2 separate regions of the Homo sapiens genome follow, and region 1 is linked to region 2. The links come from fine-mapping of genetic effects on gene expression. Tissue or cell type: subcutaneous fat. Region 2 holds a variant in brackets; the other region holds the start of a gene. All regions are shown on one strand. Distances are from middle to middle.

Evidence for each region. PIP is the estimated chance that this variant, and not a neighbour inherited with it, causes the effect.
Region 1: SFTPD starts here. The variant in region 2 is fine-mapped to the expression of SFTPD in subcutaneous fat (FUSION, PIP 0.95).

The regions. Positions count from the first base shown.
Region 1 is chr10:79,946,848-79,952,770 of GRCh38, forward strand. It overlaps SFTPD (surfactant protein D), which reads right to left and starts at 2,258. Exons shown (of 8, transcript NM_003019.5): 1 at 2,219-2,258.
Region 2 is chr10:79,974,996-79,981,346 of GRCh38, forward strand. It overlaps a transcript of SFTPD not described here. Among named protein-coding and RNA genes, the nearest start is that of SFTPD, 29 kb to the left of the region's middle. The variant CTCTT/C (reference allele first, on the strand shown) is at 2,832.

The DNA of each region.
Region 1 (5,923 bases), 28 kb before region 2:
AGCATGAGTTACCCAGCTGGAACTCTGACATAGGTTGACAGCAGCATCCCCCATTCCCAGGTGCTCATGTCTTCCCTTCTTGTGCCTTCCCTTGGGCACTAAGTTTGGCACAGTGGCTAGGATGTAGCATTCCTCACTGGGGCCATCTGTCACATCAAGAAGGGTTCATTGAGTGCCTCTGGGCAGGACACCCCCCGCCCACTCCCTAGACCATCTCCCTGTCTGTACCACTGAGGCAACTGGCTTAGCTCAGACAAGGCAAGCCTGTTTCTTCTCTCTTGCTGCCTTGCATGGACTAGCACTGGTGCTGATAGTGCTGGTCTGAAAATGCAGCCAGAGTCCTGAGTGCTTAGTAATGTCCTTCCTGAGCGCAGGCTGGGAGTGTGGTGCACATTTGCCTGGCAATTTGCCATTCCTCGAGCAGGTGCTGTCTCTAGAGAAAAGTCCCAGAGGGAACCCAGGTGAAAGTTTTCAGAGACACTAAACTAGCAGTAGGAGAAATCCTGAGACACCTAGAGTTCTTCTAAGACCTGAGAGGGTTTGGAAAAGAAGTATGTGGAGTCTGGGCACGGTCGCTCATGCCTGTAACCCCAGCACTTTGGGAGGCCGAGGCGGGCAGATCACTTGAAGTCAGGAGTTCGAGACCAGCCTGGCCAACATGGCAAAACCCCATCTCTACTAAAAGTATAAAAAATTAGCCAGATGTGGTGGTGCGTGCTGTAATCCCAGCTACTCGGGAGGCTGAGGCAGGAGAATCTCTTGAACCCGGGAGGTGGAGGGTGCAGTGAGCCGAGATCGTGCCACTGCACTCCAGCCTGGGCAAGAGAGTGAGACTCCATCTCAGAAAAAAAAAGAAGTCTTATATGGAAAGAGGACATGCCAGGTAGGCTCAGTCAGGCAGAAAGCTAGTGTTGTGGGTAAGCAAGAGCAACTACCCAACAGGGCACCCATTTACTATCTAAGATGGTCAGGAACTGAGACCAGGATAAGAGCAGGACCTGGGACATTAACTGTTTTGGGTATCTTTTCTCTCAATGAGAAACCGTAAAGTTATGAGAGTGAAAAGAGCTGATCAGATTCGCAGAGGCTAGGAACAAAGCCAGAGGGACTTGTGCAAAGAAAGGGGTCACCAGGCCAACTGGGGTGGTGGCAAGTGGGGGGCTTCCTGCCCAGAGGAGTGCCTTCTTCTTTGACTGCTGGTGATTCTGGGCTGTGGATGACCCCTATTTCTCACTAGCCTCTTTCAATTTTGAAATCACCACTTCCTTGGGTATCCTGGTAGTCTCTAGAAACACCTGGGTGAGCTCACTGCCAGCAGCGGCTACCTTGTTACACCTGTTCTGGCAGAGGCTCAATCATGAGCAGCAAGGGCCAGACCCAGGCCAGAGCAAGGGCATTGTTCTGTGCCCCGCAGCTCCCTCACCCCTCAGGCCCTGTGTCTGATTCTGGGGAAGAATGAAAGGCAATAGGCATTCTGTCTACAGGCTCAAGATGGCACAGAAGGCACCAGCAGCCACTGTGGCTTGAAGGACACTTGGAGAGGGCAGACCCGGGTTTTCAGGCCCAGGATTCAGATGAGGCATCTTAGCTGGGGCAGCAGATGGAGTGGGCAGAGTTGTGGTCCCCCTCAACCCCTGCAGTGCCCAGTTTATGCTAAGCTTTCAGAGTACAATTTCATTGAAAAGGCCATCTCCTCTGAACATGGATTGGAAAATCAGAGACCTACTCCAGTAAGTATATTTTTTAAAGTAAAGACCTGAAGCTATGAGAAAAACAGGCTTGCCCTGCTTTTCCACAGGCTGTTGGCACCAGGATGGGTTTAGAACCCCAGCCTGTGAGTGCCTGGGTTTGTCTCTCTTCCACTGTCCTTTCTGAAGAAATCAGTGCAGAAAAGAGCCTAGAGATAAATTAGCATTGCATTTTTCCACCTGAAGCTTCCACACTGTGGCATCCCAGGTCTAGATAGTGTCACACCCACTCTTCCACCCTGTGCACCCCCAGCTCAGAAAGCAAATCCTCCCCTGGGCTGAGGCCACTGAATAAGGGGCAGAAGAGCACCATAAGACCTCCTGTGCTCCCCACCTCCTGCGCCCATGCCTCCTAGACCAGAACAGCTACACAGACCCTCCACACCAATAGGTTGAATTGCCCAGGTCGGCAGAGGGATATTTATAGGATGTGGAGAAAATAAAAAGAAGGCAAGAACAGAGACACTTACAGGTTTCTTTTTGTTAGGCCCCAGGAGCTCCAAGCAAACTAGCCTTTGCTTGGCAGGCACTCACTATTTATGCCTGCCCTGTACCCTGAGCTGCCCAGCCCCAAAAACTCCCTTCAAGAAGTGGGGCAATTTTCTTCTTTATTGACTCACTCACTCTTATCCCCACCTGCGTTCTGGAAACCTGCCACTGATATTCACAATACTATGCACATCCATCACTATAGTTTGCAGAACACTATCAGGCCTTGAACTCATCTGCACCTTTCTCACTGCAGCTCTGTGAATTAAGTGGCATCATCAGTGTCTGTATTTTATAGATGTCTAGAAATCAGGAGTCCAGAGACCAGCAGGTTGCACAATGACCTACAGCGATTGCAAAAGGAACTCACAACTGCAGATCTTAAGAGCCAAGACCTGCTGTGTCCACTTCTCCTCTTCCTTTGTCTCAACAGCACTGCCCAGATATTGGGAAAGAGCTGAGAGCTGCTTGGAATACCTGGGCAGGGGTGGGGCAGGTAGAGTGGCTGCAGAGGCAGCAGCATGTGGGGGCAGCAGCTAGGGAGCTGCCACCTGGAAAGAGTTGCTCTTTTGCATGCTGCTCTAGGCCTCAGAGAGCCCCTGCCTTGCTTGTCTTTTGTGGGATGGATTTCCCTTAGCAGACCTCTGCCTTGCCTTGTTCAGGCTTGTTCTCCCTGCCATCTTAGCTGGTGTTTGTCTTGTGCACTGTTCTTGTAACTAGTTAGGACCCCTGAGCTGATGCTACTTTTATCCAATCTTTTAGTCTGTATGTATTTTTTTTTTTTTTGAGACAGTCTCACTCTGTCACCCAGGCTAGAGTGCCATAATGCATTTATAGCTCACTGCAGCCTCAAACTCCTGGGCTCAAGTGATTGTCCTGCCTCAGCCTCTTTACAGGTGAGCATGATCACACCTGGCTAATTTCTCTTTTTAATTTTTTACAGAGATGGGGTCTCACTCTGTTGCCCACGCTGGTCTCAAACTCCTGGTCTCAAGCAATTCTCCTGCCTCAGCCTACCGAAGTTCTGAGATTACAAGTGTAAGCCATCATACCCAGCACCAATCTGTATCTTTTAAGTGGAACATTTACTCCATTTATTATCAAGGTTAATATTGATATGTGATGTTTTGTTCCTGTCATGATAATTGTTACCCAGTTGCTTTTTAGTCTCAATTATGTAATTGCTTTATATAATCTGTGAGTTTTTCACTTTAATGTGCTTTTATGATGAGGAGTATTGTCCATTCATTTCCATGTTTAGAACTTTAAGCATTTCTTGTAGTGCTGGTCTTGTGGTGACAAATTCCCTTTGCATTTGTTGTATGGGAAAAACTTTATTTCTCCTTCATTTATGCAGCTTAGTTTAGCAGGATACAAAATTCTTGGCTGGCAGGATTTTTGTTTAAGTAGATTAAACATAAGACCCCAATCTCTTCTGGCTTGTAAGGTTTCTGCTAAGAAGTCCATTGTTAGTCTGTTGGGTTTTCCTGTATAGATTAGACATTTCTCTCTTGCTGCTTTTAGGATGTTTTCCTTCACATTGACTTTGGATAGTCTGATGACGATATGCCTTTATGAGGTTTCTCTTGTAAAGCATCTTCCAGGTGTTCTCTGAGCATCTCCTATCTGGATGTCTAATTCTCTAGCAAGACCAGGGAAGTTTTCCTGAATTATTCCCTCAAATAGGTTTTCCAAGCTTTTAATTTTTTTTCTTCTCCCTCAGGAATGTCTATATATTGTATATTTGGTAACTTTATGTAATTCTATATTTTTCAAAGTCTTTGTTCATTTTTAAAAATTTATTTTTTCTGTATTTCTGTCTGACTAGGTTAATTCAAATGACTGGCCTTCAGGCTCTGAAATTATTTCTTCTGCTTGGTCTAGTCTTTTGCTAAAAGTTTCAACTATATTTTATAGTTCCTTCAATAAATTTTTATTTCTAGAAGTTCTATTTGGTTTTTGTTTTTTAATCTCTATCTCTTTTGTAAATTTTTCATTAATATCCTGAATTATTTTTCTGATTTCCTTATGTTAGTTTTCAACTTTCTCTTGTATCTCATTGAGCTTCCTTACAACTCATATCTTAAATTCTTTATTTGTTATTTCAAAATTTTTATATTGGTTAGGATCCATTGCTAGGGAGCTGGTGTGATCCTTTGGGCATGTCAAAATACTGGTTTTTCGTACTTCCAGAGTGCTTATGCTGATTTCTTCTCATCTAGAGAACCCGTTACTTCTTACTTTTGAACTTACTCTCATTTGAATGGGATTTTTTCCCCCTTTGAAGGTGTGACTGTATGTTGTGTGTGATCATTTGGCTTCAATTTTGGGTGCCTTCCGTGGGTCACAGCTCTGTATGAGTTCCTTGGTCATAGATAGCTTTTGTGTGGTGGCTTTATTATGCTGTATAGATAGCTTTTGTGTGGTGGCTTTATTATGCTGATTGTAGTAGCAATGTATTGGGCATATGAGCAGGAATACTACCTTCTGAGGGGCTGGGAATGTGGAAGTCTCTGAAAGTTTATCTCATTCCCCAGCACTATACCCTCTGTCAGCCTGTTTTTTATTTGGTTGTGCAATTCAATCTGCATCCCAATAAAAGCTGGCTGTGGCATAAGCTGATGGGTACTTGGTCTTTGTTTTCTGGGAGGGGATCTCTGTTGTCACAGGCAGTTGGCTGGTCTGTGGATGGCCTGATTCCCTGAAGGGAACACAAAGCTTTGGAGGGGGACACAAAACTGAGGGGCACTAAACGACCAAGCTCACCCTGGGAAACCCCAATTATGAGCAGAAGCAACTGCCTTGATGGGAGTGGAAATGGGAGCTCATGGTGAAAGGCACTGATGTCTCCACCAGAGTGGGAAGGAGTATACCAGCTCCACATCCTGGGAAGGCAGGAAGGCAATCCACTTTCCTAAAACACCCTTGTCCCGGAGCTTGTGACCTTCAGTTCAGATAGACATTGTCCTTCATCTCCAGGCTGCAGTGTGATGGAGGTCTGCAGAAAACACCCGTCCTGTGGCTACCACCAAAATGGCCTTGGGATAGAACCTCTTCCCTCAGCAGCTCTGATATTCATCTGCATTCTGCTATGGGAATGCTGCTGCTCCATATGGGGAGGAGGATAAACTCTGCCCTTCGTGCAAGGCTTGGCCAGCAGGCACCCCATCAATGGGAGTGCAGCTGCCCCCAGGAGCCCTCAAAAGCCATCCCCAGGTGCACTTGTGCCAGCTCCCAGTAGGGACAGCCAACGGTCTATCTGGAGCATTGAGTGAGGGGGTAGGAGAAGACTCCCTTTCCATGTTTATTCCCAGGCACCAGTGTCACCTGCCTACTGGTGCAGAACCACACTCCTCCCCTTCAGACCCCAGAACCATGCCTGTGTCTCTGCTGGGAGGGGCACAGCCAGCCTCTTCTCACACGTGGGGAGCTCTTAGGCAGAGGAGAGCAAATGAACTGGTTTCTTTTATCCAAAGGAGTACGTTGGCACAGACACTCTCCCTTCTCCTAAGAGCTAGACTTCTAGGAATTCCATAGCTCCCCAGGGTCCCACCCGTCCCCTGTGGTTGCTGCAGTCTAAGTGGGTTCTGGGGAATGTTCATGGAGGATCTAGTGATGCAGAAACACAAGGGCTGGGATTCCTTGGGAAGAACAGACCCACAATGGGTGCATAACCAGTATGACAC
Region 2 (6,351 bases):
CTCTGAGTAATTTAAAAGGAAAGGGCTCAAATGTAGCTATAATATTTCCCTGTTGATCTGGGGGGGTGTATTCCAACAGGGAATCACCAAGCCTCTAAATCACTCTCTCATCTAGCTTGCTGAATTCCTGCCTGACTAGAACTAAGAGCAGTCGCTCTAGGTGCTGCTCGAACAGTCACTGGGGCAACTACTTTTTGCCCAGTGTCCTCCGGAAAAGAAAGATCTGGAAGGTCATTTTCTTCAAAATAATAAGGAGGGGGTGCAGAAGGGTAGGGATGAACCTCTCCCTCCTTTGCCACTTTAGCTTCAGCTGGTAAATAAAACTGCTCTGTAACCTCTTCTGTTACTTTGTTATACTCTCCTTCCTCCTCCTCATCAGTGTGAAAAAGTTCCTAGGTGGAATGAACCAGACCCCACACTTGTCCCATTGTTACCCTGATGCTTCCAAGCTCCCCTTCTTACTCACCACGGGGATTGCTTTAAGAGTACTCAGGTGTCCTCCAGCTTAGTTCCACATTCTCCAACTGTTGCTCCGGCGACCCTTCGACCTGGATTTGAGTCCCCATGATGGACACCACTTGCTGAGACCAGCTCAGTCGGGGAGACCCTAACCCAGCGGCACTAGAGGAATTAAACCCACACACACAGAAACAGAATTGTAAAGTGGGAAATCAGGGGTCTCACAGCCTTCAGAGCTGAGAGCCCTGAACAGAGATTTAACCACGTATTTATTAACAGCAAGCCAGTCATTAGCATTGTTTGTATAGATATTCGATTAACTAAAAGTATCCTTTATGGGAAAGGAAGGCATGGGCCCAAATAAAGAGGTGGGTCTGGCTAGTCATCTGCAGCAGGAACATGCCCTTAAAGCACAGATTGCTCATGCTATTGTTTGTGGCTTAAGAATGCCTTTAAGCGGTTTTCCACCCTGGGTGGGCCAGGTGTTCCTTGCCCTCATTCCAGTAAACCCACAACCTTCCAGCGTGGGTGTTATGGTTATCATGAACATGTTACAGTGCTGCAGAGATTTTGTTTATGGCCAGTTTTGGGGCCAGTTTATGGCCAGATTTTGGGGGGCCTGTTCCCAACACAGAAGTGGTGGGCTATACCTTGTGAAACAAGAGTTCTGGATACAGTGGCCTTAAGAAAAACAAGTTTCTCTTTTGGCAAAAGAATCAAAGTGATGGCCTTTGGTTCTGAAAGGAAAGAGTGACTCCAGTAGCATGAGGACTTTAAGATTTGGGGAAACTTGAATTGCCAAAGGCAATAAATGGTGCTGAAAGCTGGAGTTCAGCTGGTTTTGTGGTCCTGGTCAGCCAGCCCAAAGAAGCCTGAGATCCAGGCTTGCACAGTGGATCCTATCCCATCACCTGACAGCCTGTGCAAAAACACATCTGCATGCTCCCAGAAGTCCCTGGCTACTGAGTCAATCATATCTACTGCTCTGGGAAACCACAGAGTTTGGGAGGGTGAGTGATAAAATGGCTGTTGAAGGAAGTCTGGTGCCAGAAGAGTGATGGCACCACCACTGCCACTGCTGCCAGAGTCCAAGTCCAGGCTGGAAAAAAAGGGCTTTTCTCAGTAAAGCCATCTGCACCTAAAGGGAAAAACCCTGAGGATTCAACAAGAGCATAATGAAGCTTTCCACCTCCCCCTTCTGAGAACTGGGGACAAGAAGTCTTCAAAACCAAGTTATGGGACTAGCAGGCCACTTCTAGTTCAAGTGGCATGGGTCATTGGGTGCTGCCTGGCAACCATCCTCTCAGAGTGGGTGATATGGTTTGGCTGTGTCCCCACCCAAATCTCAAGTTGAATTGTATCTCCCAGAATTCCCACATGTTGTGGGAGGGACCCAGGAGGAGGTAATTGAATCATGAGGGCTGGTCTTTCCCATGGTTTTCTCATGATAGTGTATAAGTCTCATGAGATCTGGTGGATTTATCAAGGGTTTCTGCTTTTCCTTCTTCCTCATTTTCTCTTGATGGCAGCCATGTAAGAAGTGCCTTTCTCCTCCCACCATAATTCTGAGGCCTCCCCAGACACGTGGAACTGTAAATCCAATTAAGCCTCTTTTTCTTCCCAGTCTTGCATATGTCTTTATCAGCAGCATGAAAACAGACTAATACAGTGGGGAAGAAACTATAGGTGTGAGACGTGGCCATTTCACCTCTGGAGCCAAACTCAGCTTAGTTCCTGGCTGGGTGCCAAGGATTTATTCTTTAGCAAAAGTCTCTGCAATTAGTGACCCTCAATCAAGATCTTTTTACCCTGTGGAATCCCTCCCAACCACAGGACTCACTGTATTGGTGCTCTGCTCACAAACAAGCCCCAGCTGAAACCTGAGGCCAGAGAGCAACCTACTAGCTGTGAAGAATCCTAGAGTTCCACAGGACATTACTTCTATTAATACTCATAATGTTTCATTTAGTTCAAGCAAGCAGCTTTTCTGATACTCAATCATAAACAAACAACAACAACACACACATACACACACACAGTGCTCACACATGCACAAAGCAACATTGTAATCTATTTGATGTATCTAGTTTCACAGGTAATCAGTCTCATTTACAAATCAATCTGGCTAGTTTTTCTTGTCCTCATGGTAATATAAGGAACTTGTGTTTTTCAGGTATCTGTGGTGAAAGAGCCCTCTTGCCAGCTGGAATTATTTAAATGTAGCAATTTTCATCCAGTCATTGCTTTACAACACAGATGTGATATCCACAGCCTACTAAGGAGTTGTTACAGATTTTTTTCCATTTATACATGAAGTAGGTCTTCAGATTTACTTCTTTTTTTTCCTTTCTTTTCCACCTTTCTTTCTTCCT[CTCTT/C]TCTTTCATTATCTTCAATTTTGAGGAAAGTTTTATTTTTCAGTAAAGAGATCTTGCATGATACCTCACATCTTTCATTTAACCTGTTCTCCAGCACCACCCTTCTCCCAGCTTATTAAGCAGTGCAATCTTTGTCTGAGTTCAAGAATTTCTTGACTTACCCTGACAGTAGCACTCAAGAACAGGTGAGCCTAACCACTTGCAGTCTGTTTACCTTTTCTTTAAAGTGAAAAGGAGGATGTCCCATTTTTTGCCTTTTGGTTTTTATCAGATGATATAGCTTTGCCATAATTTGTAGTTACAGTAGATTAGTTACCATCTGTCCAAGATGCAATGCTGTTTGGTATAATCTATGGGACCTAACATAGGGGTGCAAGGATGGTTCAACACATGCAAATCAACAAATGTAATACATCACAACAATAGTGTGAAGGAAATATCCATGTGATCATCTCAATAGATGCAGAAAAAGTATTTGATAAAATTAAACATTCTTTCATCATAAGAGATATTACATTCATCACAACAAATTAGGCATATGCTGGGTGCAGTGGCTCATGCCTGTAATCCTAGCACTTTGGGAGGCCAACGTGGGTGGATCACTTGAGTTCAGGAGTTCAACACCAGCATGGGCAACATGATGAAACCCCATCTCTACAAAAATTACAAAAATTAGCCAGGTGTGGTGGCACATGCCTGTAGTCTCAGCTACTTGGGAGGCTGAGGTGGGAGGATCACTTGTGCCTGGGAGGTTGAGGCTGCAGTGAGTCAAGATTGTGCCACTGCACTCTAGCCTGGGCAGCAGAGTGACACCCTGTCTCAAAAAAAAAAAAAAAAAAAAAAAAAAGGTATAGAATGAATGTACCTCAACAAAATAAAGGCCTTATATGACAAATCTACAGGTAACATCATTCTCAATGGTGAAATTCTAAAATGTTTTCCTTGAAGATTAGAAACAAGACAAGGATGTACACTCTTGTTACTTCTATTTATCAAAATACTGGAAATCCTAGCCAGCTCAATTAGGCAATAAAAAGAAAGAAAAGGCACCCAAATGAAAGAAAGAAAGAAAGAAAGAAGTAAAATTGTCTGTCTGCAGATTACATTATCTTATATTTAAACCCTAAAGACTCCACCAAAAAACTGTTAGAATAAATAAATTCGGTAAAGTTTCAGGATACAAAACCAAAGTGCAAAAATCGGTTGCAATTTAAATACTATCAACAAACTATCAGAAACAAAAATTAAGAAAACAATCTTAAATAGCATCAAAATGTTAAACTATCTAAAAATATCATGAGAAAACATAAACCAGAAAATAAAAAATAAATAAAATATCTAGGAATAAATTTAACCAAGCAGGTGAATGATCTGTACACTGAAAAACAATAAAACATTGATAAAAAATTGAATCAGGAAGCAGAGCAAGATGGCCAGAGCCCTCCAATGATCATTCCCCATGCCCTGCAGGAACACCAACCTGGACAACTATCCGCACAAAAAAACACCTTCATAAGAACCAAAAATCAGGTGAGCAATCACAGTACATGGTTTTAACGTCATATCAAGGACAGAGGCAGTGAAGAGGGAAGGAAAGAGTCTTGAATTGCCTACACTACCCCCATTCACTGGCAGCATCAAGTGGTATGAGAGAGATCTGTGTACTTGGGAGAGAGAGAGCAAAGTGATTATGGAACTTTGCATTGGAATGCTGTCACAGCAGAAAGCAACACAGGACACAGTTCAGCCAGCACTCACAGAGGAAGCATTTAGACCAGCCCTAGCCAAAGAGGAATTGTCCATTCCAGGGGTCAGAATCTGGATAGACCCACCACCATGGGATGAAGTACTCTGGGATCCTAAATAAACTTGAAAGGCAGTCTAGACACAAGGACTGAAATTCCTGGGCAAGTCCCTATGCTAGCTGGGCTCAGAGCCAGTGGACTTGCTTGAGGTGTAGGTGACCCAGTGAGATATCACCTGGAGTGGCCAAGAAAGTGCTTGCCTCACTCCTCCCCGCCAACTCCAGGCAGTGCAGCTCACAAATGTGGGAGAAAAAAGAGTAAAGGGGACTTTGTCTTGCAACTTGAATACCAGCTCAGCCACAGTAAAATAAAGCACCAAGCAGAGTCCTGAAGCCCCAATTCTAAGCCATAGCTCCCAGATGAAATTTCTAGACTCATCTTGGGCCTGAAGAAAACCCACTGCCCTCAAGGAAAGAAGCCAGTCCTTGCAGAATTCACCCCCTGCTAACTAAAGAGCCCTTGGGCCCTGAATAAACATCAGTGGTAACCAGGCAGTAAGTACCATGGATTTTGGATGAGACTCAGTACCTTGCTGGCATCATGTGCAACCCAGCACATTCCCAGCTCTGGTGGCCACAGGGAGGGACTCCTGCTTGAGGAAAGGAAAGGGAAAAGTAAAAAGGACTTTGTCTTGTAACTTGGGTACCAGCTCAGTCTCGGTAAAATAAAGCATCAAGCAGATTCCTAAAATCCCCAATCCCAGGCCCTAGCTCCGAGATGGCATTTATAGACTCACCCTGAGACAGAAGGTAAATTGCTGCACTGAAGAGAAAAATTCAGTCCTGGCCAGGATTCATCACCTGCTGACTACAGAGCCCTTGAACATTGAATAAACATCAGTGGTAGCCAGGAAATTGTCACCAGAGGCCTTAGGTGGGACCCAGTACTGTGCTGGCTTCAGGTGTGACCCAGCACAATCCCAGCAGTGATGGCTATGGGAGTGCTTGTGTCACCCCTTCCTCAACTCCAGGCACCTCAGCATGGAGAGAAAGACTTTGTCTGTTTGGGAGAAGGTATGGGAAGAGAACAAGAGACTGTCTGGTAATCCAGGGACTTCTCTCAGATTTCACCCAAGACCACTAAGGTGATACTTTTATGGGTCTGCAAGAGTCACAGCATTACTGAGTTTGGGGTTCCCCCTATTGTGTATTTGGCTGCAGTGACCAAATAATTCGATTACGACGCTCATTTCCCTTTGAATACTTGAAAAGCCTTCTCAAGAAGGACAAGTACAAACCAGCCCACACTGAAAAGATTAAATACCTAACTCTTTAATGCCCAGACACTGGCAAATATCCACAAGCATCAAGACCACCAAGGAGAACATGACCTCACCAAACTAAATAAGGCATCAGTGACCAACTCCAGAGTTAGAGAGATATGTGACCTTTTACACAGAGAATTCAAAATAGCTGTTTTAAGAAATCTCAATGAAATCCAAGGTAATACAGAGAGGGAATTCAGAATCCTGTTAAATATATTTAACAAAAAGATTGAAGTAATTTAAAAGAATCGAGCAGAGATTCTGCAGCTGAAAAATTCAATTGACACACTGAAGAATGCATTAGAGTCTCTCAACAGCAGAATTAACCAAGCAGAAGAAAGAATTAGTCAGCTTGAAGACAGGCTATTTGAAAATACACAGGGGAGTCAAAAGAAAAAAGAAAATAATGAAATTTATAAAATAGCTTCAAAAAGGCAAATATAAGTT